Linked DNA regions of Homo sapiens: all the other regions are linked to region 2. Evidence: fine-mapped QTL for protein levels in blood plasma. A gene starts in region 2. Each other region holds a variant in brackets. All regions are shown on one strand. Distances are from middle to middle.

Region 1 (9,955 bases), 37 kb after region 2:
AAAACACTTGAAGTGTGTGATATTGCTAGGGTGTGTGAGGGGAGCCGTGAGGGAAGATGACAAGCAGCATAAGACTTTTGGGTACTTAGAGAAAGAGAAAAGGACCCAACCAACCAACTTCCAATTCATAATTCATGGTTTGTCTCAGGACCGTCTGGCTCCTTAGGCCAATCCCATGGGAGCCCCAGCCAAGGGGCGTCTCTTAGACCAAGCTTGGAAAACACAGTGTCTGCTGCCTTCATGTTGCCTGGGTTACCAGGCGACTTAGCCACTCACAGCACAGTGACCTGCGACTCAATTAGAGAAATGCCATTTTGAGTTCCATAAGAAAAATAAGGCTTTATTTTTAAAAACTAAACATAACTTCACTTTTTTCCCGAATATAAGAGTAATAATGGCTCTTTACTTGAAAAAAATCTACACAATACAGAAAAATTAGGAAGAAGGCAAATCTCATCTGTCATACTGCACGCAGAGTAGCAGACATTTTTCTATGTGTTTTTATGCACATATTTATATTTATAGACCCAAGAGGCTATGTGGGACATTAGGAGTGCGACCCAGAGCAGAACCATACAACCGCCGGTTCTAGCCTTTGTACAAGGTAAATCATGGGTTTCAAACATATCATTGCCTCCTGACTGATCTCTCTGCTTCTGCTTGGTTTCTCCTTCAGCCTAACTTCCACAATGCTGCCAGAGCAATGTCCTACGCTAGGGTCCTGAGTGCATCGTCCTCTTGCTCAAAATCAGCAATGGTTTCCTACCCTTGGCAAGACAAATTTCAAATTTTAAAATCTGCTCTTCAAGAAGCCGGGCGCAGTGGCTCCTGCCTATAATTCCAGCACTTTGTGAGGCCAAGGTGGGCAGATCACTTGAGGTCAGGAGCCCTGGACAACATGGTGAAACCCTGTATGTACTAAAAATACAAAAATTAGCTGGGCGTGGTGGCACGTGCCTGTAATCCCAGGTACTCTGAAGGTTGAGGCAGGAGAACTGCTTGAACCAAGGACACAGAGGTTGCAGTGAGCCTAGATTGCTCCACTGCACTCCAGCCTGGGTGATAGAGTGAGACTCTGTCTCCAAAAAAAAAAAAAAATCTGCGATTCAAGATCTTTCCATTTGCCCCTAAACTGCCTTACTAGGTCTGTGTCCCAGGAGACCCCACTGCACTCTCCATGAACCTTCTCTCAGTTCCGTATTCTCAACATAAGCCTTTGGATCTGGTACCTTTGCTCACCTCCTCCTCGAAGCCTTACTTAGTTCCAGATCCATTTGTTTTTATGTCTCTCTCTCTTGAGGACAGCAACTTTACCTCTTTGTCTTTGTGTCTGTCATAATGCTTTACCCTGACCAGCCATGACCTAGTCAGCATTTGATCAGATTGGGTGAGAACCTTGGGTTTGGGGAATCAAGACAAAGGAAATGGGGAGGCAGCCTAACATTGTGGCCAAGAGCATGGACTCTGGCACCTAACAGGTTGGCCCACATCCTACCTTCAGCACTTGCTCGCTGTGTAGCCTTGGGCAACTCACTTACCTTACCTGAGCTGCATCACCGTGTGTGTAAGTAGGGATTATAAGTACTCATAATTCAATGAGCGAATGTGCATAAAGAACCCAGAACAGTGCCAGGAGTATAGTAGATCAGCCCTGTATAAGTGTTATTTGCTAGTGTTATTGTTACTACTACTAGAGTTGTTTGATAGCTGTCTAAACACCATCTGCAATACAGCACTCTCTGCAGATCAGAAGTTACTGTGCACTGGGCACTGTGTGAAGTATTTTCATAAATGGCCCCTTTCAATCCTCACTCGACCCCATAGGATCAATTCTCTTATTATCCTATTTTACAGATGAGAAAACATAGACATAGAAAGCTTTTCTTACTTGGCCAAGGTCACCTCTCTTGGCCTCGGTTCCTCCATGGTCTGGGCAGCAAGGGGGCAGCAGGGAGCCCTGGCAAAAGCAGCTAAGAAAACCAGCCTCGTGTGTCTTCAACAAACAGGTCCCAGCACCAGCTCCATGCCTGGCACACTTAATGGGTACTTAATGCTCTTCTACCAAGTGAATGAACAATGCTAAGCATTTGACCAAAAGAGAAATGCACATGGAAGACCCCTGAGCACAAGGACTGGGTGGGCACATGAAGAACTGAGTTCTCTTTCCTCTCCTGTCGTAGGTACCAGGTACCTTACACTTGGCTGTATTCCCTCTAGCACGATAGACTTGGTAACAAGG[T/G]ACTTTCTGAACCTGAACAGGAAACTGTGGGAACCATGATGGGGAAGATACTGACTGTCAGAGAGTCCAAAGATGTAAATGCCTTCCACTCCCACAGCAAGGAAGCCGAAATCTCCAGAGGCTCTGGCAAGAGTTGAGTCAATTGCATGCCTGCCTAGTCCAGCTCCGTCCACATGAATGCTCTCCACAAGCTTCAGAGGAAACAGGATAAAATGGACTCCCAAATATTTAGGGTGGTGAAAATACTCTGCATGATACTAGAATTGTGGATACAGGTGATTATATATGTGTCCAAACCTACAGAAGGTACAACACCAAGGGTGAACCCTCAGGTAAACTACAGAGGCTGGGTGACCATGATGTTTCAATGTCGGTTCATTAGTTGTGACAAATGCACCACTCCACCACTCTGGTGGGGATGCTGCCAGTGGGGGAGGCTATGTATGTGTGGGGACAGAGCGTATGTGGGAAGCTCTGTACTTTCTGCTCAAATTTGCTGTGAACCTAAAACTGCTCTAAACATTAAAGCCTATTCAAAAAAATGAAAGCCTAATTTGAAAAGGAATTTCAGACACTTGGGAAAAAGAATAATGACGTCTATAAGTCATTCTTTGATAAGAGAGTCGGTCAGTCTGGTGTGTCTAGTAAGGTAGCAGAGGGACATTCACAAAGACCGGAGAATACAAAGATGTTAAACAGGGTGAGGAGTCTATGATGTTGGTCAGTATAAAAGGAGAAAAAGATCCTAAAAACATTCCTAAATATTGTTTGATTTAAAAATATATGTTGGAAGGCAAGAGAGTTTGATAAAAAAATAAAAATAAAAATAAAAAACCTTGATGGGAAGTGGGAATGACCACACGTTAGCCAGCTGATAGCTTACCTGTTTGAAGTTCAGCTTCCACACGATTGTTACAGACGGAACTGTGTTCCCTCAAATTCATAGTTCGTTATGGCCACCCTGGTAAGCTAACACAACAATGAAAATTTCCAAAGTAAAGACTAGAAGCAGGCATGTGCCAAGTGAACACTAGCTTTTTTTATTTCTCCTGCTGTGAAAATTGAGGTTTGCCAAAGGTGCCAAATGAACATGGCTGATTGAGAAGTAATCCCAGTTCCACTAACCTGAGAGACAGCCCAGGCAAGCGGACCTAGCTCCTAATGCTCATTTCCATTTCAGTCTTTCTGAAGTTTCCCAGGGTGAGAAAGTGGAACTCAGGACAATGAATCATCATTGGAGACTCTGCAGTTGCTAGAACTTAATTCACAGGCATTTGAAACCCAGAACTCAGCCTTACTCTTCTCAGGAGACTTTTGGCACCAAAGAGAAGGGCAAATTGAAAGCCCATGCTGGAGAACAGGGCACAGCTATTGCTGAGACTGGGAGCTTGTTTTTAAAGACCTGGCAAGGGTTTCAAACACCCACATGCATAACCAATGAAGCAGGTTGGAAAATCTGAACTATGCTAATTTCACCATAATTACTCATTACTTGAAGTCTTATGTATTTGTGTTTTCTTGGTAGTCTCTTTAAAACATGTTTCAATATGAAACGTATATGTATTAAATCACTCCGCTTAGAATTTTAGGAATATAGTTTTGTTTTTCCCCCTAAAAGATGTAGAATGCAGCAGGTTCTCTAAAGCACATGTATTCTTTGTTACGTGATTTGGTTCTTTGGAACTTCTTTTATCATGTAGCTATTAAAGGGTAGCTGTCAGAATTACCCAAACTCTTCACTGAAATGACTTACTTATTTGAGAAAAATGCATGTTAAGAAGCCAAACCGTGTGTGTGTGTGTGTGTGTGTGTGTGTGTGTGTGTGTGTATTTCTCCCCTGCACAAAAGTAGAAGGGTTTTCATTTGACTTGTGCCAGCTGCACCTTCATGACTTTGCTATAGGACATGTGACACAGTAACTCTAAGATGGTGCTTGTAAAATTTTAAAATAGTTAACATACAGTGACAAGCTCTCAGGGGAACACATTAAACTCGATTAAATTTTGTAGGGTAAAAAGATGTGTACAGAAATATAATCAGAGTGAAGTCATTGTTCACCATTGCTGCTAGTAATAAAATTTGGTGGTAGGAGGGGGAAGGAGAAAGGGAGGGAGGGAAGTCGGTGAGAGAGAGAAAAGGAGAGGGAGACATTGACAGAGAGAGAGACAGACAGACAGAGAAACAGAGAGAGACAGAGAAAGAGAGGGAAGAAGGGAGAGAGAGAGAGATAAGGATAGAGAGAGACAGGGAGAGAGTGTATCTCCTGATCCTCACTGGCTGATAACTAAATTAGTTGGGGGCAGGGGGGACTGAATCTCGTTCTGTCACCGAGGCTGGAGTGCAGTGGCACCGTCTCGTCTCACTGCAACGTCTGCCTCCCAGGTTCAAGTGATTCTCATGCCTCGGCCTCCCTAGCAGCTGGGACTACAGGCACACGCCACTATGCCTGGCTAATTTTTTGTATTCTTTTTGCTAGAGACGGGGTTTTGCCATGTTGACCAGGCTGGTCTCAAACTTCTAACCACAGTGATCTGCCCGCCTTGGGTTCCCAAAGTGCTAGGATTATAGGCATGAGCCACCATGTCGGGCCTAAATTAGTAGTTATTATCTACTTTCATTTGTGGGATGAAGATGAAACAGAGTCCTTTGGGATTGTGCACTGGGGGAAACCTAACATAGTCTAGTATCGGGAGAGGAGGCTTTCCAGAGAAAGTCTTCCTTAAGTTGAACCTGAAAAAACGAGAGCTATTAGCCAGATGAGAGGTGAAGGTGTGAGGGGGTGGATTGGAAATATTTTCAGGTAGGGAGACTAATCTATACAAAGGTTTATGTTCTCAACTACTGAGTTTGTCTTCAGCATTTGCACCTTATTTAACAAATTTATTAATTTGTTAAATTATAACAAATATTTGACAGCAGAGCTGAGGATATTAAAATAAAATGTAATTTTATTTCTTATATGTTGGTGAAGAAGGAGCAGCAACAGAGGCTGGAGCATTATTTACAAGCCAAACTATCCGTCTGGAGATTCCCAGTGCAGCAACTGGGACGGGGACTACTGAATCCCTCAGATTTTAGGCCATAGGCCAATGAACATTTTCTGTAAAAGGTGAAGTAATACTTTTAGCTTTGCTGGCCATGCAACCTCTGTCGCAACTACTCAACTCCGTGGTTCGTGAGGGGTCCACAGGGTTCATTATCCGTCATGAACCGCAGAGTTGAGTAGTTGTGACAGAGGTTGCATATATTTACTCAGCCAATATTTACTGATGATATTGATTAGGAGTCTTGGGAAGAGCAGTGACAGTTTTTTTGGTATTATATCTAGCGACAAAAGATTGAATTTGGCCGTTACTCACTCCTCCTCCAACAAAGTTGTCAAACGGGGCTGCTACAGACAAGTAGAATCACAGATTGGAGATCAGCTGTCATTATGTAACAGCTGGATTGGCAGGCTTCCCTCTAGGGGCCATCCCTGTCTACAGCTAGAGTGGACAGGCCAGGGAGGACACCATACTTGGAGTAGAGTAACCTTGTCCAGGAGTAAAACATGGCCCGAGAATTCTGTGCTCCTAGCAATCCTATTATTATAGAAGTGCTTCCTGATAAGGGAGGAAGGGTAGGAAGAGGAAAGCTGAGGCAGATGGATGGGGAAAGTACTGAAACATTCTGTTCACATCCTCAATAACCTTCATGAAAAATCAGTCATAGATGCTGGAATCTCCAAACCTCCAAGGGGCTTACAACATTGTGTGCAGGGAAACCTCTAATTCACAGCCTTATTGAGAGCATGTGTCAATGGCCCATAGCAGGGGCCCATTCTGGCTTTTGTACAACCCCAAAGACACACGTGGGTTTTCCATTTTTAAATGGTTGAAAAAAATCAAAAGAAGAACATTATTTCATGGCGTCTGAAAACTACATGAAGCTCAAATTTTAGTGTATAAAGTTTTACTGGAACTCAGCCATGCTCATTAGTTTGTGCTTATCTATTCCGCTTCTGAGCTATTGCAGAGTTGAGCAGTGGCAACAGAGGTTGCATGGCCCGCAAAGCGAAAAGTATTATCTCACCTTTTACAGTAAATGTTCATTGGCTTATGGCCTAAAGTCTGAGGGATTCAGTAGTCCCTGTCCCAGTTGCTGCTCTGGGAATCTCCAGATGCATAATATGGTTGGTGCATAACGCCCCGGTCTCTGTTGCTGCTGCCTCCTTCACCAACATACAGTACAAACAAATAAAACTCCATTTTATTTTAACATGCTCAGCTCTGCTGCCAAAGCTGTGACAAGCCCAGAAGCAGTTTTTCAGGGTTTGAGATGGAGAAGAAGGTGGTCTCTTCTCTTGCTCATCAAGGAATCCTCTTTATTATTTAAGCCAGATTAAGTTTGCTATGGTTTGAATGTTTGTCCCTCCAAACTTCATGCTGAGATTTGATCCTCAATGTGGCAATGTTCAGAGGTGGGGTCTACTGGGAGGTGTTTGGGTCATGGGGGTCAACCCCTCATGAATTAATTACTGTGCTCCCTTGGGGATGGGTGTGTGAGTTCTCACTGTCTTAGTTCCCTTGAGAGCTGGCTGTTAAAAAGAGCCTGGCACCTGTCTCCCTCCCTCCTTGGCTTCCCCTACTGCCATGTGATCTCTTTGCATACTTTGGCTCCCCTTCCACTTCCACCATGAGTCGAAGCAGCCTGAGGCCCTCACCAGATACAGATGCCTAATCTTGAACTTTCCAGCCACCAGAATTTTAAGCCAAATAAACCTCTTTTCTTTATAAACTGCTCAGGCTCAGGTATTCTGTTACAGCAACACTAAATAGACAAAGACAAAGTTGTTGACTGACTTTGAATTTCTTTAGAAGCAGACCTGTGACAGAGGATAAGTCCAGGGAGTTCATTTGGGAGGTAATAAACTACCTGAAGGTACAGGAAACACTGATGAAGAAGTGGGAATTGAGTTAGGGATGGCAGGAAGCCAATACAGTGTTATCAGGCTGTTATCACTGAAGGAAACTGGGGTTGAAGCCTGCTGGGGAACTAAGGCATACAGTGCAGAATGCACCTCGAACTGATTGTATCTGAGACAGAAGGAGGTTGAGATATTTATCTACTTGTCAGTCATGGGTTCAGGACTGCTCCCAGGAGGACATTGGGCCTGCCCTGAGATGGCAACTGGCACCAGCTGCAGCAGAGATGGGATGGAAAGAAAACAAATTAATATGAAGTTTCAGATGAGCCACTTATTTACAAGGAGGACAGTTTTGAAATTAATTTTTCCTTATACTTTAAGGTACAGTGAAAGGATGCATAAACAGACCTTTTTGAAGTATGTGAAAATCATGAACCCACTTTCAGTTTGTTGCACCAACTTCCACAAATTACAATGTCAGAGGAAACATCAAAATTCCCTTGCATAATTTTACATTTAAAATAAAATTCAGACACCAAGATGGTAACCCCCATGGATCTTCACAGAGCTTCAAGACAAAGTTTTTGACACTCAACAGAAGGTGAAGCTTACAGACATACCGACCAAACAGCTAAACAGAACAAAAAAGCATGCACATCTTACAGATGCAGAGATCATGACTTCGGTGGATGAGACTAATCTGTATGAAGCTGTAGGATATATGTATGAAGATGAAGAATGTTTATTCTTCAATCCAAGGAGGCAGTTCACAATAAACTGTTAGAAAGTCAGAAAATAGCAGAAGAAAAAAAAATTAAAGAACTAAAACAGAAAAAAATCCTACCTAGAGCAGAATGTTAAGGAAGCTGAGGGCAACATCTGGGAGATGCTGATGGCACAAAGGGCCCAGCTGGGAGCCTCTGCGGGAAGCTCTTCCTCCTGCCCCTCCTATTTCTGGCAAGGGCAGAGTGGTCTGTGCAGGGAAACAGTCTGTCTTCTGCCCTAATGGATGTTTTATCTGGATGGCCTAGCAATCTCACATGTTGAGCCCCTCTTGTATCCCAACTCTGAGATTTTTACCCTGGCTTTGCCTCCCCTGCTCAGGACACTCTTTTCTGTTGGTGTGAGTCATGAGCTCCCAGGAAAGGGAAGATGGGAGCCAGGACTGATAGGAGGCTCTGTCTGAGCCTTCCATTAGGGACGCTGGTCAGACCAGTAAACAGCATCTGTCCCACTCTGCTACATCTGCCTTTCTTGAGCCAAGGGATGGGAATGGAGGGTGAGAGAGGCAGTGGCTATCTCCATCACAGCTCCTGCTCCCTCTGCATTAGAGTCTTTCTTTCCTTGGGGGATGGGATCTTGTCCTCTTATCTTTTCCTTTTCTGGACATTTGACTAATCCCTTCACCTTCTGGGCCTCTGTGTAGTATACAGATGAGGAAGAAAGAAGACTTACACCGAAAGCTGAATTTAAGTGAAAAGAATAGTGGTTCCTTTATGGCAGTCTGCCTACAGATTCCTTTCCCTGCTTTCTCCCATACCTTCTGTATTAGTCCATTGGCACACTGCTATAAAGAGCAGCTCGAGACTGGGTAATTTTTAAAGGAAAGAGGTTTAATTGACTCAGGGTCCCACGTGGTTGGGGAGGCCTCAGGAAACTTACAAATCACGGTGGAAGGCAAAGGGGAAGCAAGGCACCTTCTTCACAAGGTGGCAGGAAAGGGAATGACACAGGAGGAACTACCAAACACTTATAAAACCATCAGATCTTGTGAGAACTCACTCACCATCAGGAGAACAGCATGGGGGAAACCGCCCCCATAATCCAATCACCTCCACCTGGTGTCTCTTCCTTGACACATGGGATTATGGGGATTACAATTTAAGATGAGATTTTGGGTGGAGACACAGACAAACCATATCACATTCCAAAAGAAAGTTCAACAATAAGCAGCACTTCCAAGACTTTCTCCCTTTGGCCAATATCATAAGATGGACACTGTAATCGTGAGGCTTAGGGGCAGAGGAGTGCTGGAGCTGGCCTATACCCACTCAGGAGGGCTGATTGTTCAATTTTCATGAATTTTGTTGCAAGCCACTTGTTAAAAACAGCCATTACAAAAATTATCTAAATTTGAAAATCGTGTTAGAAACAAGGATAATGAATGTTCAAAGCTCAAATAAAAATTCAGACTTATACAGAACTGATATGAAGAGTTAAATTTTTTGGAAAATGTTTTCTGTAAGTCATCACTTCTAGACATGCTAAAATTTATATAATGAAATATTTTTTCAGATTTATTCCAATGCTATAAAACATGTTTAGCATTTCAGTAACAGTTTTATTAGCAGAAAATTCTTCCAAAATTTAAAATTATTAAAATTATCTGCAACTTTGCAGGTAATAAAAGTGTTTTATATCACATTCAATTATATTGATCAATAAAGAAGTTGCAAAAAGCATAAATTCTGATACCTAATACATTTATGGAAGAATGAATTAGAGAAATCTCATAATAAATCAAGGTGTCACATTAAGAAAGTATTACTGTTTACTGTATCATATAAAATTACATATTATACATTGAATTACATACAAATATAAAATTATGACACCAATATTTTCTTGCAATTTGTAGGTTTATGTTGTAATTCATGATAACTATTACTCTGATTACATTTTGTCAGTAATATAATATTTTTAAAGGAAAATGTATTGTTTCAGTATATTTAACTTAGCTGTACTTTTTTTCTGCTTTTTGAACAAAGTGTTTCACGTTTTCATTTTGCATTGCCCCCAAAATTATGTAG
Region 2 (9,955 bases):
TATTTAAAGACATGAGTTTGTAGGTTAAAAGGGCTCATGGATTGTCCAGTACAATGAAAAACAACTACTTTTGCCCAACTTCATCTCTGAAATTTCATACTCCTAAGAATAGAAGGAAATTCTGAAAATTTCCAGATAGAAAAAAAACAGGCCAAAGAATAAAAAACAAAACAAACAACAACAAAAAAGGTCAAATAAACAGGAATAGGAAAATGGGTTCAGATTTCTCAACAGCAACACAGAAAACAATGGAACACAGTCTTCAAAATTTTGAAGGGAAATGCTTTCCAATGCAAAAATGTACCCAACCAAATTCTCAATCAAGTGTGAGGTTAGAATAATGACACTTTGAATTCTTATGCAAAAATCTCAGACATCCAATCAAATTCTCAATTAAGTGTGAAGGTAGAATAATGACATTTTGAATTCTTATGCAAAAAATCTCAGAAAGTTTAGTCCCTGTGTATCTTCTCAAGAAGCTATTGGAAGATGTGCTCCATAAAACAAGAAAGAGGAGGATGTGAGATCTAGTTGTATTAGTTCGTTTTCATGCTGCTCATAAAGACACACCTGAAACTGGGAACAGAAAGAGGGTTAATTGGACTTACAGTTCTGCATGGCTGGGGAGGCCTCAGAATCATGGCATGAGGTGAAAGGCACTTCTTACATGGCAGCGGCAAGAGAAAAATGAGGAAGAAGCAAAAGTGGAAACACCTGATAAACCCATCAGATCTTGTGAGACTTATTCACTATCACCAGAATACCAGAATAGCATGGGAAAGACCGGCCCCCATGATTCAATTACTCCCACCCTGCCTCCCCACCCCCACCCCAACCTAGCTCTCTCCCACAACACGTGGGAATTCTGGGAGATACAATTCAAGTTGAGATTTGGGTGGGGACACAGCCAAACCATATCATTCCACCCCGGCCCCTCCAAATCTCACATCCTCACATTTCAAAACCAATCATGCCTTCTCAACAGACCCTCAAAGTCTTAACTTCAACATTAGCCCAAAAGTCCACAGTTCAAAGTTTCATCTGAGACAAGGCAAATGCCTTCTGCCTATGAGCCTGTAATATCAAAAGCAAGCTAGTTACTTTCTAGATAATGATTACCTCCAGGGTAAACAAGAGGTTTACAACAAATAAAATGTCATAATGTCCCAAACAGAATAATGTCCCAAACAGAAACATCAAGAAATAGCATATAGGTATTGTATTAGTCTGTTCTTGCATTGCTATAGATACCTGAAACTGCTCATTTATAAGAAAAAGAGGTTGAATTGGCTCACAGTTCTGCAGGCTGTAGGAAGCATAGTGGCTTCTGCATCTGGAGAGGCTTCAGGAAGTTTCCAAATGTGGTGGAAGGCAAAGGGGGAGCAATGGGTCTTACACGGTGGCAGCAGGGAGCAAGAGAGAGGGAGGAGGTGCTACACACTTCTTTTTTTTTTTTTTTTGAGACAGAGTCTCACTCTGTCACCAGGCTGGAGTGCAGTGGTGAGATCTCAGCTCACTGCAACCTCCGCCTCCCAGGTTCAAGCGATTCTTCTGCCTCAGCCTCCCGAAGAGCTGGGACTACAGGTGCGTGCCACCACGCCCAGCTAATTTTTGTATTTTTAGTATAGATGGGGTTTCACCATGTTGGCCAGGATGGTCTCGATCCGTGATTCCCAACACACCCCCCACACCAGCCTCCCAAACTGCTGTGATTACAGGTGTGAGCCACGGCGCCCTGCCAGTGCTACACAGTTTAAAACAACCAGATCTCACTTACTATCATGAGAATAGCAACAAGGGGATGGTGCTAGACTATTCTTGAGAAACCCACACCCATGATAAAATCACCTCCCACCAGGCCCCACCTCCAACGTTGGGGATTACAATTTCACATTAGATTTGGTGGGACGAGCCATGCCAGGGATGCCCCAAAATTACTAAACTAAAGGGAAAAGTCAGGCTGGGAACTGCTCAGGGCAAACTTGCCTCCCATTCTATTCAAAGTCATTCAGCTGCTCACTGAGATATATGCATATTCTGATGGCCTTCTTTGGAAAGGCTTATCAGAAACTCAAAAGAAGGCAACCATTTGTCTCTCACCTACCTGAGACCTGGAAGCCCCCTCCGTGCTTCGAGTTGTCCCCGCCTCTCTGGACAGAACCAATGTACTTCTTACATATATTGATTGATATCTCATGTCTCCCTAAAATGTATAAAACCAAGCTGTGCCCTGACCACCTTGGGTACATGTCGTCAGGACTTCCTGAGGTTGTGTCATGGACACGTGTCCTCAACCTTGCTAAAATAAACTTTCTAAATTAATTGAGACCTGTCTCAAAATTTGCGGGTTCACACATGTTATTTAGAAATATGGAAGTAAACACAGGAACAAAACTTGAAAGAATTAAAAATGCTTTCCTCTGGAAAGTGGATTTAACTTAAGGAGGAACTGAACAGGAGAATGCGGGTTTTGGTTACAGAAAAAAAGAGATTCAAATAAAACAGTAGAGAACACCTGTTCTGTCCTCCCTTGTGTTTATCAAGTGCTTGCCAGGCACTCAAAGTTCATTGCTGTCATTATTGTAAGAATTGAGGACTTGGGCCTCCACGTGGTATTCTATTAATACTGGCTCTTTTTTTTTTTTTTTTTGAGACGGAGTCTCACTCTGTTGCCCAGACTGGAGTGCAGTGGCCCGATCTCGGCTCACTGCGAGCTCTGCCTCCTGGGTTCACGCCGTTTTCCCGCCTCAGCCTCCCGAGTAGCTGGGACAACAGGCGCCCGCCACCGCGCCTGGCTAATCTTTTGTATTTTTAGTAGAGACGGGGTTTCACCGTGTTAGCAAGGATGGTCTCGATCTCTTGACCTCGTGATCCACCCGCCTCGGCCTCCCAAAGTGCTGGGATTACAGGTGTGAGCCACCGCGCCCGGCCAATCCTGGCTCTCTTAAACTGAACATCTCCAGGATTTTGCATCTATCAGGAAGGGATATTGTGACCTCTGACAAGTTACAGTCGGCGGTAGGTATCCATGGAGAATTGGTTCCAGGAACCTCCTGGATACCAAAATCCACAGATGCTCAAGGCCCTTATATTAAATGGTGTAGTATACAGTATTTGCACATCCTCTTCTATAATTCACGTCATCTCCAGATTCCTTGTAATATCAAGTACTATGTAATTGTTACATAAGTAGTTGTTACATTGGATTATTTAGGGAATGATGACAAGGAAAAAAAAGTCCGTACATGTTCCGTACAGATGCAAGCATTCTTTTTTTCCTCAAATGTTTCTCATCCGTGGTTAGCTGAATTTGGATGATGAATCCGCAAATCTGGAGGGCCGAACATGCTTAACTTCCCTGAGTTTATCCATTGCTAAAGCGAGAGAAATTACAAACTTAGCTAGGAAGGGTGTTGCGGAAAGTAATTAATATTATACTTGCAAAGTGCTTGGCACGTTGTTGTGGTTATTATTTCCTGAAAACAAACAAACACCACTTATTGGTTGGTGTGAAAGAGGGCATCTGTCAAAGTTGTCGTCCTTTGGAGCCAGAAAAGTATTTCTTCTGATGATGACTGACCTCTCCTCACCTCTCCTTCAACCTTGCGGCTTCTTTGGGGCTCCCTCCCCGTGGACAGCGGTCAAGATTAGCCTGGGCCACAGTGCACTGGTCCTGTCCTGGGTGATGTTCCAAGCTCACTCTTTTTTAATTTTATTTATTTATTAATTTTTTTTTTAGACAGAGTCTCACTCTGTCGCCCAGGGCTGGAGTGCAGTGGTGCAATCACTGCTCGCTGCAGCCTCGATCCCCTGGGGTCAAGCCTCCTCACATCTCACCTCGCAGGTAGCTGAGACTACAGATGCGCACCACCAGGACCAGCTAAGTTTTGTATTTTTTTGTAGAGAGGAGGTTTCTCACCTGTATGTTACTCAGGTTTGTCTCGAACTCCTATACTCAAGCGATCCGCCCGTCTAGGCCTCTCAAAGTGCTGGGATTACAGGCATGAGCCGCCGCGCCCCGCCCCACGCTCAGTCTTGAAATTGTCTGGAACGGGAAACGGCAAACAGCGAGATATCCGAGCGAGAGTCCCGCCCTGCATCAGTTTGCGGAACCGCCTTGGTAGAAGGAGAGAAGGGGAGTGGAGGAAGCACGGGACTGGAGGGACCAAAGTTCCCCGATGGCGGCCCAGGGGTGCGCGGCATCGCGGCTGCTCCAGCTGCTGCTGCAGCTTCTGCTTCTACTGTTGCTGCTGGCGGCGGGCGGGGCGCGCGCGCGGTGGCGCGGGGAGGGCACCAGCGCACACTTGCGGGACATCTTCCTGGGCCGCTGCGCCGAGTACCGCGCACTGCTGAGTCCCGAGCAGCGGTGAGGCAGTCGGCCGGGTGGAAGGGGAGCCGGAAAGAGGCAACGGTGGGGAGGGCCTGGGGAGGGGAAAACTGGCGCTAAAGTTCGGGGTGAGGGGGCAATGAGAGAGGCCTTGAGGGGAGAGGTGAGTGTGGAGACAGCGATGGTCCTGAACGATGGGGGCGAGTGAGGAGGGGGCTGTGAAGTGTGTCTGCAGGTGAGGGGTGCGCTGTGCGGGGTCTAGAGATGAGTGTGTGTGTGTGCGCGCACACACACACTGTAGAGGTGAGGGGTGTGTGCGTGTGTTCTAGAGGTGAGGGGGGTGTGTGTGTGCGCGCGCTCTAGAGGTGGGAGGTGTGTGTGTGCTCTAGAGGTGGATGTGTGTGTGTGTGCTCTAGAGGTGGGGGTGTGTGTGTGTGTGTGTGCTCTAGAGGTGAGGGGTGTGTGTGTGTGTTCTAAAGGTGAGATGTGTGTGTGTGTTCTAGAGGTAAGGGGTGTGTGTGTTCCAGAGGTGAGGTGTCTGTATGTGTGTTCTAGAGGTGAGGGGTGTGTGCATGTGTGTTCTAGAGGTGAAGGGGGTGTGTGTGCGTGCGCTCTAGAGGTGAGGGGTGTGTGTATTCTAGAGGTGAGGGGTGTGTGTGTTCTAGAAGTGAGGGGTGTGTGTGTTCTGGAGGTGAGATGTGTGTGTGTGTGTTCTAGAGGTGAGGGGTGCGTGCATGTGTTCTAGAGGTGTGTGTGTATCTGTGTTCTAGAGGTGAGGGGTGTGTGTGTGTAGTCTAGAGGTGACAGGTGTGTGTGTGTGGTCTATAGGTGAGGGATGTGTGTGTGGTCTAGAGGTGAGGGATGTGTGTGTGGTCTAGAGGTGAGGGGTGTGTGTGTTCTAGAGGTGAGGGGGTGTATGTGTATTCTAGAGCTGAGGAGAGTGTGTGTTCTAGAGATGAGGTGTGTATGTGTGTTCTAGAGGTGAGGGGTGTGTGTGTGTTCTGGAGTTGAGGGGTGTGTGTTCTAGAGGTGAGATGTGTGTGTTCTAGAGATGATGGGTGTGTGTGTTCTAGAAGTGAGAGGTGTGTGTGTTCTAGAGGTAAGGGATGTGTGTGTGTGTGTGTTCTAGAGGTGAGTTGTGTGTGTGTTCTAGAGGTGAGATGTGTGTGTGTTTGTTCTAGAGGTGAGGGGTGTGTGTGTGTAGTCTAGAGGTGACAGGTGTGTGTGTGTGGTCTATAGGTGAGGGATGTGTGTGTGGTCTAGAGGTGAGGGATGTGTGTGTGGTCTAGAGGTGAGAGGTGTGTGTGAGTGTGAAGGAGGGTGGAGAGGTATCCCTCTAGAAGTGAGGGTGGGGTAGAGGTGAACTGGGTAACAGCCCATTGCCACCCAGCAGATGTTTAGTCTGAATACTCAGAACCCAGAATGTGATCTCAGGTTGGAATTCCTTGAGTCCAGTCCTTCCAGAATTCAAATTTCAGATCCCCTAAATCTGGAGGATTTCTGAAGTTTGGGTCTTTCTTGCCAGTGCTGCATTTCTTACTGATTTTTGTTCCTTCTGTGGCCCCCCTTTTCTTATGTTTGTGATGTCTTTCTTGTGCTGATCATTTTTATTGTCGCACATTTCAGGCAAATAAGAAACAGCAGAGAACCACCTGTGTTACACACCACCCAGTATGAGAAACAAAGTTACAAATGCTATGGGAAATATTTTTTGAAAACTAGCATGGACCTCAAGAGGGGCTTGCACTGGAGGGTGCACCTGCTTTGCCAGAGGTGGAAGCCTTTTGCAGCATTGGGCCTCCCTCCTAACACTACACATCCTGCTGGCTGGCCTGGCCTCACCTGGTCCCCGAGCTCCACACTGGAACTGGACTATGAGACTGGCCCCACCGTTAGGTCTAAATGAAGAGGCACCTGCTGTATAGTTGACTGAATTTGTCACCTCCTGCTCGGTGCCATTTCTGCTTGTCTCCGTGAGCCTGGGGCAAGGCTGTATTCCTTAGCTCTGAGAAATCTGTGCAGTGCCTTCAGAGAGACAATTCCAGTGTCAGATTTCTGAATCTGTCACCTAAGCCATGACAATTCGTTGTCTTTTTTGTAAGCCTACTTCTGCAGTTACTATATGAAAAATCTCTTGTAAAGCTCTTAGACAAATGGGCATACTTCACAACACATTATGATGTGCATGTGTGTGTTCTTCCCAACTTGTACTTTTGCACAGGAACAAGAACTGCACAGCCATCTGGGAAGCCTTTAAAGTGGCGCTGGACAAGGATCCCTGCTCCGTGCTGCCCTCAGACTATGACCTTTTTATTAACTTGTCCAGGCACTCTATTCCCAGAGATAAGGTAACACCACAACCATCTTGGGTAAAACTGTGTTCTCTGTCTCTACAGAAATGGATGGTGCATGGGCCAGGTTGACATTAGCTGTCCCCTGCATCCTGCAATGTCACAGAAACATCAGGCAGCACACATAATGTGTGTGCTGAGCTCTCTGTGGGAAGCTAGCTTTGTTTCTGTATTAGTCCGTTGTCACATTGCTATAAAGAAATGCCTGAGACTGGGTAATTTACAAAGAAAAGAGGTTTAACTGGTTCACAGTTCCACAGGCTGTACAGGAAGAATGGCAACATCTACTTCTGGGAGGCCTCTGGGAGCTTTTACTTCAGCAGAAGGCAAAGTGGGAGCAGGTGTCTTACATGGCACGAGCAGGACCAAGGGCAGAGGGAGGTGCCACAGGCTTGTAAACAACTGGATCTTCTGAGAACTCCCTCAGGAGAACAGCAGCAAAGGGGGAAATCCACCCCCATAATCCAATCACCTCACACCAGGCCCCACCTCCAACATAGGGGATTACAATTTTACAAGAGACACAAATCCAAATCATATCAGTTTCCAATAGTGATTGTAGATCTCCCGCTGGTTGTGGGCAGAAGAAAATTTCCTAAGTTAGCAAGTTAGTGTGAGAATCAACATGAGGACATCAGGACATGGCCATACCTGTCACACTGGGCCTCCACATCTGGCCAGTTCTAAATAACCTTCATCCTAACTGGCCCAATGGCCTGAACCTTGAGTAATTCAGAAAACTCTCAATCTCAGTATCCTCCCGGGAGACCAGTCTCTCCATTTAACGGGTCTTAAGATTATATTTATTTAGTACCAGTTTATTTAAGAAAACCACATATCTATATTCTGTATACACTCTCAGGTCTAATAAAATGAAAATAATGAGAAAATTTCCATAAAACCCTTGCTTAAAACAATACCTCAAGTTTAAGGAATGCTAGACACCATTTTTGTTTCTGTGACATAAACATTGTTAACCTGATTTTTTCCATTGTGTGTTATTTGTAAAGGCAAGTAAATGGAACTGTGAGGTTCAAAGATAGAATAGACTGAAAACATGATTTTTGAGTATATGCTGTCTTTTGAACCTTGCTGCCCTCCTGTCACTAAAAGTGGGGAAGCTGACTTTTTAACCTTCTGTTTCATAGATTCGGTGCTAGTTGATGAACTCAGTAAATACTTCCGGGGCTATTTGTTTGCCAGTCATTGGTGCTAAGGGTTAAGGATGTAACAGTGAAAAACAGCCCTCACCCTTGGGGACCTTCTAGTCTAAATATAAACTGATTGGACTACTGAGGGTCAGATGAAATAGTGACTGGGGGATTTGTGTTATTGTTATATAAAAACACTATGGTGGAAACTATAAAGTATAATATAAAAGCAATGTGTTTTTGAGGCACTTGACACTTTAGGAAGTGCTTTTTGTGACTGCTTATTATCCTGGCCACAGCTCTGGAAGAAGAGAAAGGGCTCATGCTCTGCATTTTCCAGAAGTAGAAACTGAGAAACAGGGAGATTGCATGCCTTGCTCAAGATTACATATCTAATACATGACAGAGCCAGGATTCCAGCCCAGTTCCCTTGATCATTTTTAATGTAGGGGATCTTACCACATGCACGTATATTTAGTACTAGTGAGAAAATATTCCATTAACATTTGCATGATACCCTGGGAATAAAGGGAGGAGAGATGCTAGCAGTCTTTGAATGAATAAATAAAGACAACGAAAAAGAACGTTCAGTTGTTGTGCAGCAGGTCAGAGTTGAATGAGAACTGGATTGCCCAACTTGCCTTGATGATATTGTGCCTGAGGAGTCGGTTTTGATTCTGTTTTGTATTTTGATGTTTTGTTTGTCTTTCCTTAGTCCCTGTTCTGGGAAAATAGCCACCTCCTTGTTAACAGCTTTGCAGACAACACCCGTCGTTTTATGCCCCTGAGCGATGTTCTGTATGGCAGGGTTGCAGATTTCTTGAGCTGGTGTCGACAGAAAAATGACTCTGGTAAGACTCCTGCACAAATCACAGGAGACTTAAGAACTCCTATTTACTATGCATTACCATTTGTGCTAAATGCTTTCATATGCATTTATTTCACTTGATCCTCTCCAAGTCCTCTGAGATAAGTGGCAAGAATAGTTAATAATAACAATACTAGAGAATACTTAACTTTGCAGGTGCCAGTCTAAGCACTCTCTCTCTCTCTCTCTCTCTATATATATATATATATATACACATATATATACACATATATATACATATCTATACATATCTATATCTATATATACACACATACTCATTTGATGCCCACAACAACCTCATGGGATCCTATCATAATCCCCATTTTGATAAATGAGGAAACTGAGGCACAGCAAGATTAAGAAATCTGCTCAGGGGGCATAGCTAGTAAGCAGCAGACAGTCTGACTCCAGAGCCCATTTTCTCAACTTTGCACAACTCTGCCTTACTATCCTCATTTGTCCAGAGGGGGAAGCTGAGGCTTAGGGAGGTTAAATGACTGGAAGTGGTAAGGCTGGGTCTCAGTCCTGTCCTGATGGATTCTGAAGCCTGTGCTCTGTAACACCACTCCAGGCCGCCGGCAGATATTTCGAGATCCAAGTCACAAGGAAAGTTAGAGTCACAAGAGCTGGCCTGAATGTTCTGCAAACACTCCTCATTCATCCAACTGTGGTGCTAGGAGCTGGAGACACAGCAGTCCCCATCTTCAGGGAGGTTATAGCCTCATGGGGGATATCAGCTCGAGTGATATGGGCTATAATGCAGGAAAAATGGTGTTCGAGGAGTAGCAGAGTGAGACACCAGCCTCCACCAGATCATCAGGGAAGCTTCAGAAGGGAGGCTAGCAAGGAAAGGAGGTTAGGGAGTGTTTCCATTATGAAGACTGGAGATCCTTCCTGGGTATCAGAGTTACTTCAAAAGTTAACCTAATATCAGGCCGGGCATGGTAGCTCACGCTTGTAATCCTAGCACTTTGGGAGGCCGAGGTGGGTGGATCATTTGAGGTCACGAGTTCGAGATTAGCCTGGCCAACATGAAGAAATCCAAACTCTACTAAAAATACAAAAAAATTAGCCAGGTATGGTGGTGCATGCCTGTAATCACAGCTACTCGGGAGGCTGAGGCAGGAGAATCCCTCGAACCCTGGAGAAGGAGGTTGCACTGAGGCGAGATCATACCACTGCACTCCAGCCTGGATGACAGAGTGAGACTCGGCACACACAAAAAAAAGAGTTAACCTAATATCAGTTCTGTTTATTT
Region 3 (9,955 bases), 26 kb after region 2:
GAGGCAGGAGAATCACTTGAACCCAGTAGGCAGAGGTTGCAGTGAGCCGAGATTGCACCAGTGCACTCCAGCCCAGTCAACAAGTGTGAAACTCCATCTCAAAAAATAAAATAAAATAAGAGAGAGAGAGAGAGAGAGAAAGAGAGCACATGCACTGGTGAGCTGGCTTGTCATCCCCATATAGTTCTTATTCTCTTTTTCATTTAGTAATAGAACCCTTGAATTTTAGATGGTTCATGGCTATCAAGAATAATGATCCTAGCCTCTCTACCCACTGTGGCCAAGTGACATGTGCAATTTCTGGGTTTAGCACTTGAAAGGAAGGGACTTACATTCCCTTTCTCCTTTTATGCTGGCTGGTATATGGGCCCACAAGATGTGGAGGTGAGCGTCTTCAACTGGGCGTGGCAGAGTAACACAGCAAAAGGAAGCCGGGTGCCTCTGTACCATGGCATCACTCTACCAGCCCTGAAGAGTTACTGAGAGAGAAATAAACATCTGTCTTCTCTAAGCCACTGTCATTTAGACAGAAGCCAGATTTTATTTGATCCAATGTGGGTAGGTTCATATTCTCCCTTCAGAAGCAAAGAAACTCTGGCTCAGAGAAGTTTATGAAGGACTCACCCAAGACCACCCAGCTAGTGCAGGCAGAACCAGGATCTGAAGGAGTCTGAGAACTGTCAAAATTCACTCTGGCAGATGTCTTGCTCTTTGGGCTGGAAATTAGGACAACAGACCCATCATCTCCAGCATGTATTCTAGGAGCCAACATCCCAGGGTTCGGTGATGGATTTAAGTCCTCTCCTCATTCTTTAATGCTATTCGTTCCCTGTGAATTTGGCATGCATCGTTTCTGAGTCCTTTCACAGGAGGTAAAGGATAGCCTGTGAACCTGGGTCTTTCCTTTCCTCACCTGAAAATGAAGTCCACCCTCATGTCGCTGCTGCTCAAAAACCTTCAAAGTTACCTACTACCAAGTTCAGACTTCTAGTCCCATCTTCCAGGTTCATCATACTCTTTCCAGACACGTCACCCACAGCTTCTCATCTGGAATGTTTATTTCAAGGCTAGTTTTGATCCACTTCCCATAAGATATCATATGCTTTCCTGCTCATCAGCCTGTGGAAACACCGTTTTGGCAGTAGTAAGCACTCTGTTCTTACTGAGTTAGTCAGATGATCTGAAATTGTCAGTTTTCTTATCTACAAAGCCTCCATGAGGTTACCCTGATCCCTGATCTCAATATTTAAAATCATAGCCTCCATCTCACAACTGTGGCTCTTCAAAACCCTCATGTGACTGCATTTTTTTTCTTTTTTATAGTGTTTATCTTCTGACTGACCTACTTGTGAAGTGCGGTCTTTTTTTTTTTTTTTTTTTTTTTTTGAGACGAGGTCTCTCTCCTCTCTCTGTCACCCAGGCTGTAGTGCAGTGGCACAATCACGGCTCACTGCAGGTTTGACCTCCTGGGCTCACGTGATCCTCCCACCTCAGCCTCCCAAACAGCTGGGGATACAGGCACTTACCACTACGCCAGCTAACTTTTAAAGTTTTTTTTTTTTTTTTTTTGTAGAGATGAGGTCTCACTATATTGCCCATGCTGGCAAATTCATTCTTTAGCGCCTCCCACCTGTCAGAACATGAGCTCCAGGAGGTCAGGGACTTTGACCTGTTTTTTTCACTGATGATGGTATTCTAAGGACCTAAAACAGAACTTGCAACTCGGTAGACACTTAGGAATGAATGAATGGATGAATAGATGAATGAACGAATGAATGGTTGGATTCTACCCTGGAAAGGCATAGATTTAAGAAGAACGATGTTCAAAGGTGCTGGGCAGCCAGAAGGAATGACAAATGCTCTACAACACCTTCAGAGAAGTGCCCAGAGGCTGCATATGCATAAGGTCTACATTTTGATTGCAAGAAAAAGAATCCTTGTGTGGCTCACTTATGTGGAAAAGGGGGAATAAAGTTGTTGCAAAGATTAGTGGTATAGACTTTCTAAGGAGCCTGGAACCTCATAAGTCTTGGATAGGGAAGTGTCTGTGGTGTTAGAATTACTTAGGTTTGTATGGTTTTACTCTTTGTCTCATTAATCAGACTGTCAACCTATACAGAAACAGACCATGTAAAATTCCTTGTTGTAAAACCCACTGCACCCTACACCACCATTCCTGAAATGGGCAAATGGTGCCATCCTAGCACCAGTGCCTTGGGTTAGCTCCCCTGCTGCAGGAAGAATAAGGAGAACGAGGGTAGCTCTTCTCACTTTTCCTCGGTATTTTTTTTTTTTTTTTTTTGAGATGGAGTCTCGCTCTGTTGCCCAGGCTGGAGTGCAGTGGCGTGATCTCGGCTCACTGCACCCTCCGCCTCCCGGGTTCAAGCAATTCCCCTGCTTCAGCCTCCCGAGTTTTCCTCAGTATTTCTGAGCACTTTGCAGTGTCAGGCTTCCAGCTGGCACTCTGGAGTCATCATCTCATTTTACTCCAACCACATTCCTAGAAGGAAGACAGTTTGATTGTCATCAATGATGCTGAGGTTCAGAAGGATTAAGTGATCATTTAATGTTACTCAGAGGCCGAAGCAAAACGGAGATTTGTCTGTGTGTAAAGTTCTCATTCTTCCTACCACACCACACTGCCTTAAAATGTCTCTGGGTCTCACACCACAGCAGGTAAGTAAGGGGTTTGCAGTTCCTGACCTGTTCTTCCCTGTGTGTGGGCATTCTTTCAGTGACTGTTGGTAGACATTTTTGACAATTCTGGCTGATTCCTTTGAATGTCAAGGATAAAACTCTCTTTCACTCTGCCAAGTTTTTCACCAACTTTCATCACCCTGGCAGGAATTTTTCTAATCTATTTTTTAAACATTCTAGCTGTGAATAGTCATAGATAATTTACAAAAGAGAAACCACAAATAGCAAATATACAAAATTATTTAATCACTCTAATAATAATGGAAAACAAATTCAACAAGGTGTCATTTTCACCTAAACTTTCTTGGCATACATTAAAACATAGCAGAAAAATGTTTTAGAGATGTTATTCAATGCTTGATGTCACTGTAAATTGATAAAGTGCTTTGGGAAAACAATTTGACAATATGTGTCAAGAATTAGAAAAATATCACAGTCTTTGACCTAGGTCACACTTTAGGGTACTTTTGGTGCCCTATTCCAAACAAGTGATTTGAAATGCACATACAGCCTATATGCTCAAATATGTTCTCCAGAGCATTCTTTATAATACTGAAATACTGGGAACTGGACTCAAATATCCACTGACAAGTAAACAGTTACATCAAAGGGTACACTTACTGGAGGGAGTAGAATATAGCCCTTAAAGACAATGGTAGGATAATCATACAGCAAGCAGAAGACCCCATGAATAATCCAAGGGGAAAAAACCAACCTTAGCGCTTATAGGTTATAATATTGGCCAAAAATTCAGTAGACTTTTAATCTGCAGGATTGGTGATGATATGAGAAAACAGACATATAGTACTGGAATGAGGACTCAGTGTGGCACTAAGGGCCAAAGGCAAACATCAGATCTTTTAACTTAGCTGGAAGGCTCTATCCTAAATGCCCCAGGCCACAGAGACAGGACTACTCATCTCTACTTGTTTAGGAATAGTGGGGTAAAGGGCTTTTAATCTGCAAAGGTTTCAAATGAAATAAACAACTGTTGATGTAAATCCACCCATTTTATTAATAGTTTTGTGGTAAATTTAGGGACAATCTGTATGTTTTGGTATTTAATTATTGGCAATATTTTAGAGAATGTAGCATATAAGAACAGCTGTTGGATTAAACCTGTGATGCCAGTATATGGGTTACTATTAAGTAACTAATTCTTTTTCTTTTTTTTTTTTTTTTTTTGGAGACAGGTTATCGCTCTGTCACCCAGGCATGGAGTGCAGTGGTGTGATCATGGCATATTGTAACCTCAACCTCCTGGGTTCAAGTGATCCTCCTGCCTCATCCTTTCAAGTGGCTGAGACTACAGGAGCAAGCCAGCACTACTGGAAAATTTTCTTTTCCCTTCCTTCCTTCCTTTTTTTTTTTTTTTTTTTGATGGAGTCTTGCTCTGTCACCCAGGCTAGAGTTCAGTGGCTTGATCTTGGCTCATCACTGCAGCCTCCACCTCCTGGGCTCAAGTGATTCTCCTGCCTCAGCCTGCCAAGTAGCTGGGCCCACAGGTGTGAGCTACCACGCCTGGCTGATTTTTGTATTTTTAGTGGAGATGAAGTTTTACCATGTTGGCCAGGCTGGTCTCAAACTCCTGACTTCAGGTGATCCTTCTGCCTTGGCCTCCCAAAGTGCTGGGATTATAGGTGTGAACCACCATGCTCAGCCAAGTAACTGATTTTAGGCTTGGGATTTTTAGTAGGAAGTTATAAGAGAATTTTACTAAGTTTTGAACCAGTATTGGAATTTGTAAAAGAATTAAGATTAAATTTTATACATTTATTAGGTTTACTACAATCAAGTAATTGAGAAAGTTTTGCTAATTTAAAGTCATTTAAAATATTTTTTAAAAAAGATGTAATATTTTAATATTTAAGTTGAAAATAACCTGAAGCCTTGCCCAGTGGCTCATGCCTGTAACCGTAGCACTTTGGGAGTTCAGTGCGGGAGGATCACTTGAACCCAGGCATTCAAGACCAGCCTAGGCAACATGGCGAGACCCCGCCTCTACAAGCAAACAAACAAAAAATTGGCTGGGTATGTTGGTGTGCACCTATGGTCCCAGCTACTCAGGAGTCTGAGGCAGGAGGATTCTCTAAACCCGGGAAGGTCAATGCTTCAACGAGCTGTAGTCATGCCACTGCACTCCAGCCTGGGTGACAGAATGAGACCCTGTCTCAAAGAATAATAATAATAATAATAACTTAACCTGAAATAACTTGAGTTTAAAACATCACAGGAATTAAGTAAGTGTGACAAATCCTTAAGAGTTATTGTCAGAGTTCACCAGGTTTTTAAATAGAACAATGTGATTTATAAATTAAATAAAAGGGCATGGGAAAATTAGGCTTTTGAGTATATAAATGTAATAACAAGAATCAATTTTAAAAATCAAAGTAACTGCAAATAGTGCAGTTACCCCCTCAAGTATAGTCTCACATTGACAAGAAAAGGTTTTTAAGCTACAAAGTGAGAAACCAATGCACAGAACATGAACCGAGACATGTAAACCAGAAGAAAGCAAAACAGCATGTTTCTATTTGTGCATGATAATGGATGTAAGTGATAGAAATAGGTCTGAGAAAGTAAACTCCAAGCACCTAACTGTGGGTTCCTTCTAGGCAAAGGAATAGAAACTGGAAAAAGATGAAGGGAGGCTGTCATTATTAGTGTATCTAATTATGTGTTATTTTATTTTTTAAAAAAGTAAAGAAAAATGTAACCTTATGTTAATTAGTTAATTATTTGAAAGCAAAAGTAATTTTAAATTTTGAGTGAATCGAGTCTGGGACATTAACTGCATCACAGGTGCAATTGTAGAAAATGTCCGGTAGGTGGAGCACTAATACAAACCTGTGGGTCAGATTTCTTTAGCAAAAAAGAGAGGACCAGCATTCAAATGGAGTCAGGAACTTTTAAGGACAGGGCCACTAGTCCAGAGCCATGGGATATATTTCCAAGCCAACATTAGATGGTTTCATAATTTTAAAATTCATCTTTTAGTTGGTTTAAAAGAATTCAGTAATTTCTGTTTTTACAAACCCAGTGGCCAGATACTGTTTACTATGAATAGGGTCCATATTTTGGGCAGGCCCTCTGTTGATGTCTTCATGTCAGGACAGGTTTTTCTTCACCACTTAAACTCTGATCATGTAATAGCCATCAGTAGGAAACCTGGCTAACACTGTGTTCCATCCGTACAATAAGAATTCATCCACAAGGAAGAATGAGTTAACTCCCTGTGTACCAATATGGAAGCATGTTCAAAATATGATGTTAGGTGAAGAACGCACGTTGCAGATTCCATTTGTGCTTAGATAAAAGGATATCTAAAGACATCTAAGGATAATTTGCAGGGCAGCAGCAGGTCCTGTTGTCTAGAGAAGCTTTTTGCTCAGGAAAGAATGTCTTGAGATGGTATTTCAATGACGTGTGTGCTCAGGATTGCAGAAATAGGAATTAGTTATATTGAGCAGGTTCAGCATGCATGTGTTCATTGCATTCCTGGAAAGAGAACTCAAACTATCAAAGTTGGTTTTCTATGGAAAGTGCAAATGGGGAGACTAAGAGACTTTTACTTTCCACTTTATAACTTCCTATATACTATGTACATTTCTCCACAGTGTGCACAATTTG[CT/C]TTTTTTTTTTTTATACTGGTAGCAGTAGAATTTATTCAAATGTGCCTTAATATAGGCACTGGGGCTTGCCTATGGTGCTCTCGATATATAAGGCCCGGACATTCTGCCAGTTTTTCTGCCAGTTTTTCTTGAGCAATGTCACCAAGAAGTTGACAGGCAGGTGACTGTTACACACAAGCTCATTGTCTGTCCTTTTCACGTGGCCAACAGCCACAGCCAGACATAACACCTTCTTCATGTGGAAATTGATTACGGACTTCATCTCATCCACTTTGGCCACCATGTTTTCCTTGTGTGTGAGCAGGGAGGGGCAATTTCCTGCCTTATTTAGGACTGGGCCGAGGATTCGTGGGATCTGCTTGATCAGAGACTCTGAGGCCAAAAATGCATCATACTCTTGGCCAGTTTCTTGACCAGTTTCTTATTCTTGTTGAGTTTTTTCAGTACCTCGTTTTCCATGTGGTGGAAATCCACAGGCTTGGCCTTGTCACGGTGCTGCTGGTTACCCAGGACACACATGGAGAACTTGGGGCAGGGAGTGGACTTAAGCCTGACGGTGCCCGAGAAGCGCTTGTCCTTCTGGGGAGTCATAGTTCTTGAAGCTGATCTGCAACTCCACCATCTCCAGAAACTTGGGGTGCTTGCGCTGGTTTCGGTGCAGGACTTCGCGCACCGCCTCCTACGGGGTGTCACGGGAGACTTTGCTGCTCATGGCTTCTCGCTCCGCGCTAACCAGAAAAGAGACTAATACTGCACATATATTTTTGAGCGTAGATTCCATACACCAATACTGACACTTTCTCTATTTCCTTGTTAATTTGCAGGGCAGCAGCCGCTACTCAAAGAAAAGCCCCAAGTCTTTATACAGAACAAAGGGCGGGTCTTATCATTCCCCTCTTTCTGGTGCTGGCTTCCAGGACTCAACTGTAACTGGAAACTGTGTTGCTCTAACCCTCCTCCAGCCCTGCAGCCTCCCCTTGCAGTCATCATTCGTGTTCTGTGTATACCAAATGATTCTGTTATCTAAAGAAGCTTTTTGCTGGGAAAACGATGTCCTGAAAATGGTATTTCAATGAGGCATATGTTCAGGATTTCAGAAACAAGAAGTTAGTTCTATTTAGCAGGTTAAAAAATGCTGCATTAGAATTAAAGCAAGTTATTTTCTTATTTGTATAATGACACAAAGCATTGGGAGTCAGACTGCTTGTATATTATCAAACATTTTAAGAGAATTCTAATAAAGCTGTATTTTACATCATCTATATTTTCCTATATCTCCAGCAGCACGGACACTGCATGCTTGTTGATTGCTTAAGACATATGTATACTATATAAATGTATGCATATATGGTCTGCAAAGTTTTCATTTTTCATTTATTTGGTATAAAGATGTTCAGTTAATGGTTCCTTTTTGTTTTGAGAGACAGAGTTTCGCTCCTTTGCCCAGGCTGGAGTGAGGTGGGGAGATCTCAGCTCACTGCAACCTCTGCTTCCAGGATTCAAGCGATTCTCCTGCCTCAGCCTCCCAAGTAGCTGGGATTGCAGGTGCCTGCCACCATGTCCAGCTAATTTTTGTATTTTTAGTAGAGATGGGGTTTCACCATGTTGGCCAGGCTAGTCTCGAATTCCTGACCTCAGGTGATCCACCCACCTCAGCCTCCCAAAGTGCTAGGATTACAGGCGTGAGCCACCACATCCAGCCATAATAGTTACTTATAATGAGGGAAAAACCCAAAATATCCAGTAATATTTACATATTTACTGAAACTGTTTGGAACTTGTATTAGTTTGTTCTTGCATTGCTATAAAGAACTGCCCGAGACTGGGTAATTTACAAAAATAAAAATAAAAAAGAGGTTTAATTGACTCACAGTTCTGTGTCCAGAATTGTGACAAAATTGTGACAACCTCTGGGTTTTTGGTCTTGCTGACTTCAAGAATGAAGCCATGGACTTTTGCAGTGAGTGTTACAGCTCTTAAAGATGGTGTGTTCAGAGTTTGTTCCTTCAGATGTGTCTGGAGTTTCTTCCTTCTGGTGGGTTCGTGGTCTCGCTGACTTCAAGAATGAAGCTGCGGACCTTCGCGGCAAGTGTTACAGCTATTAAAGGTAGTGCGGACCCAAAGAGTGAGCAGCAGCAAGATTTATTGTGAAGAGCGAAAAAACAAAGCTTCCACAATGTGGAAGGGGACCCAAGCTGGTTGCCACTGCTGGCTCGGTGGCCAGCTTTTATTCCCTTATTTGGTCCCACCCACATCCTGCTGATTGGTCCATTTTACAGAGCGCTGATTGGTCCATTTTACAGAGTGCTGATTGATGCATTTACAATCCTTTAGCTAGACACAGAGTGCTGATTGGTGTGTTTACTATCCTTTAGCCGGACACAGAGTGCTGACTGGTGTGTTTTTACAGAGTGCTGACTGGTGCATTTACAATCCTTTAGCTAGACACAGAGTGCTGATTGGTGCGTTTACAATCCTTTAGCTGGACACAGAGTGCTGACTGGTGTGTTTTTACAGAGTGCTGACTGGTGCATTTACAATCCTTTAGCTAGACACAGAGTGCTGATCGGTGCATTTACAATCCTTTAGCTAGACAGAAAAGCTCTCCAAGTCCCCTCTCGACCTAGGAAGTCCAGCTGGCTTCACCTCTCTGTTCCACAGGCTTACAGGAAGCATGGCTGGGGAGGCCTCAGGAAACTTACGATCATCATGGAAGGCAAAAGGGAAGCAGTCATGTCTTACATGGCCAGAGAAGGAGGAAGGGAGTGAAGGGGGAGGTGCTACATGCTTTCAAACCACCAGATCTCGTGAGAACTCTGTCATGAGACAGCACTAGGTGATGGTGCTAAACCATCCGAAACCACCTCCGTGATCCAATCACCTCCCACCAGACCCCACCTTCAACACTGGGGATCACAATTCAATATGAAATTTAGGTGGGGATACAGAGCCAAACCATATCAGAACTATTTACATGGGTTTTAGAATATTTGTAGAATGGAGTATCATTCAACAAGTAAAAGCCATGTTTACCAATTCACATGTCCTTCAGATGGTGAAGGAATAAACTAACTGGTAAATCTACACCATGGAATACTACTCAGCAATAAAGGTAACTACCTTGATATATGCAGCAATATGGATGAAACCCAAATGTGAGAGCTGCCGCACCAAAAGGCCACCAACTGTATGATTCTATTTATATGACATCCTCGAGAAGGCAGAACTATAGTAGCGGAGAGCAGACCAGTGATTGTGGGGGTTGAGAATGATCAGGACTAGAAGGAGGCGCTGACTGCAAAGTGACACTGAGAAAAATTTTGGGAGCGATGGAGCTGCTCTGTGTCTTGATTGTGGTGGTGATTGCATGAATCCAAGTGTTCGTCAACACTCATGGCCCTGTACATGAAAAAGAGTAAATTTTATTTTATGTAAACCAAAAAGAAATGTTTTCAAAGAACATTTAATCACATAGGAAAATGTGTAAGAGATAAAATATAAAACTTAATTATATGATGAAAATGTCTAAAGTATGATACAAATTTAATATATTAAAATATAATATATATACGGGAAATCATTCTCAAAATTGTCTCCTCCACCAGTCGACTAAACTTAGGGGTTTA

The links. PIP is the posterior inclusion probability: the model's chance that the variant is causal. Protein levels are from the aptamer-based SomaScan assay of Sun 2018.
Region 1: its variant is fine-mapped to the plasma level of the BST1 protein (Sun 2018, PIP 0.95).
Region 3: its variant is fine-mapped to the plasma level of the BST1 protein (Sun 2018, PIP 0.95).

Annotation. Positions count from the first base shown.
Region 1 is chr4:15,735,528-15,745,482 of GRCh38, forward strand. It overlaps a transcript of BST1 not described here and the pseudogene PFDN1P2. Among named protein-coding and RNA genes, the nearest start is that of BST1, 37 kb to the left of the region's middle. The variant T/G (reference allele first, on the strand shown) is at 2,240.
Region 2 is chr4:15,698,967-15,708,921 of GRCh38, forward strand. BST1 (bone marrow stromal cell antigen 1) reads left to right here and starts at 4,099. Exons shown (of 9, transcript NM_004334.3): 1 at 4,099-4,366; 2 at 6,549-6,675; 3 at 8,545-8,680. The coding sequence starts at 4,179. RefSeq lists a silencer at 4,038-4,117.
Region 3 is chr4:15,724,587-15,734,541 of GRCh38, forward strand. It overlaps BST1 (bone marrow stromal cell antigen 1), which reads left to right. Exons shown (of 9, transcript NM_004334.3): 9 at 7,154-8,201. The coding sequence ends at 7,259. It also overlaps the pseudogene RPL10AP7. Among named protein-coding and RNA genes, the nearest start is that of BST1, 26 kb to the left of the region's middle. The variant CT/C (reference allele first, on the strand shown) is at 6,328.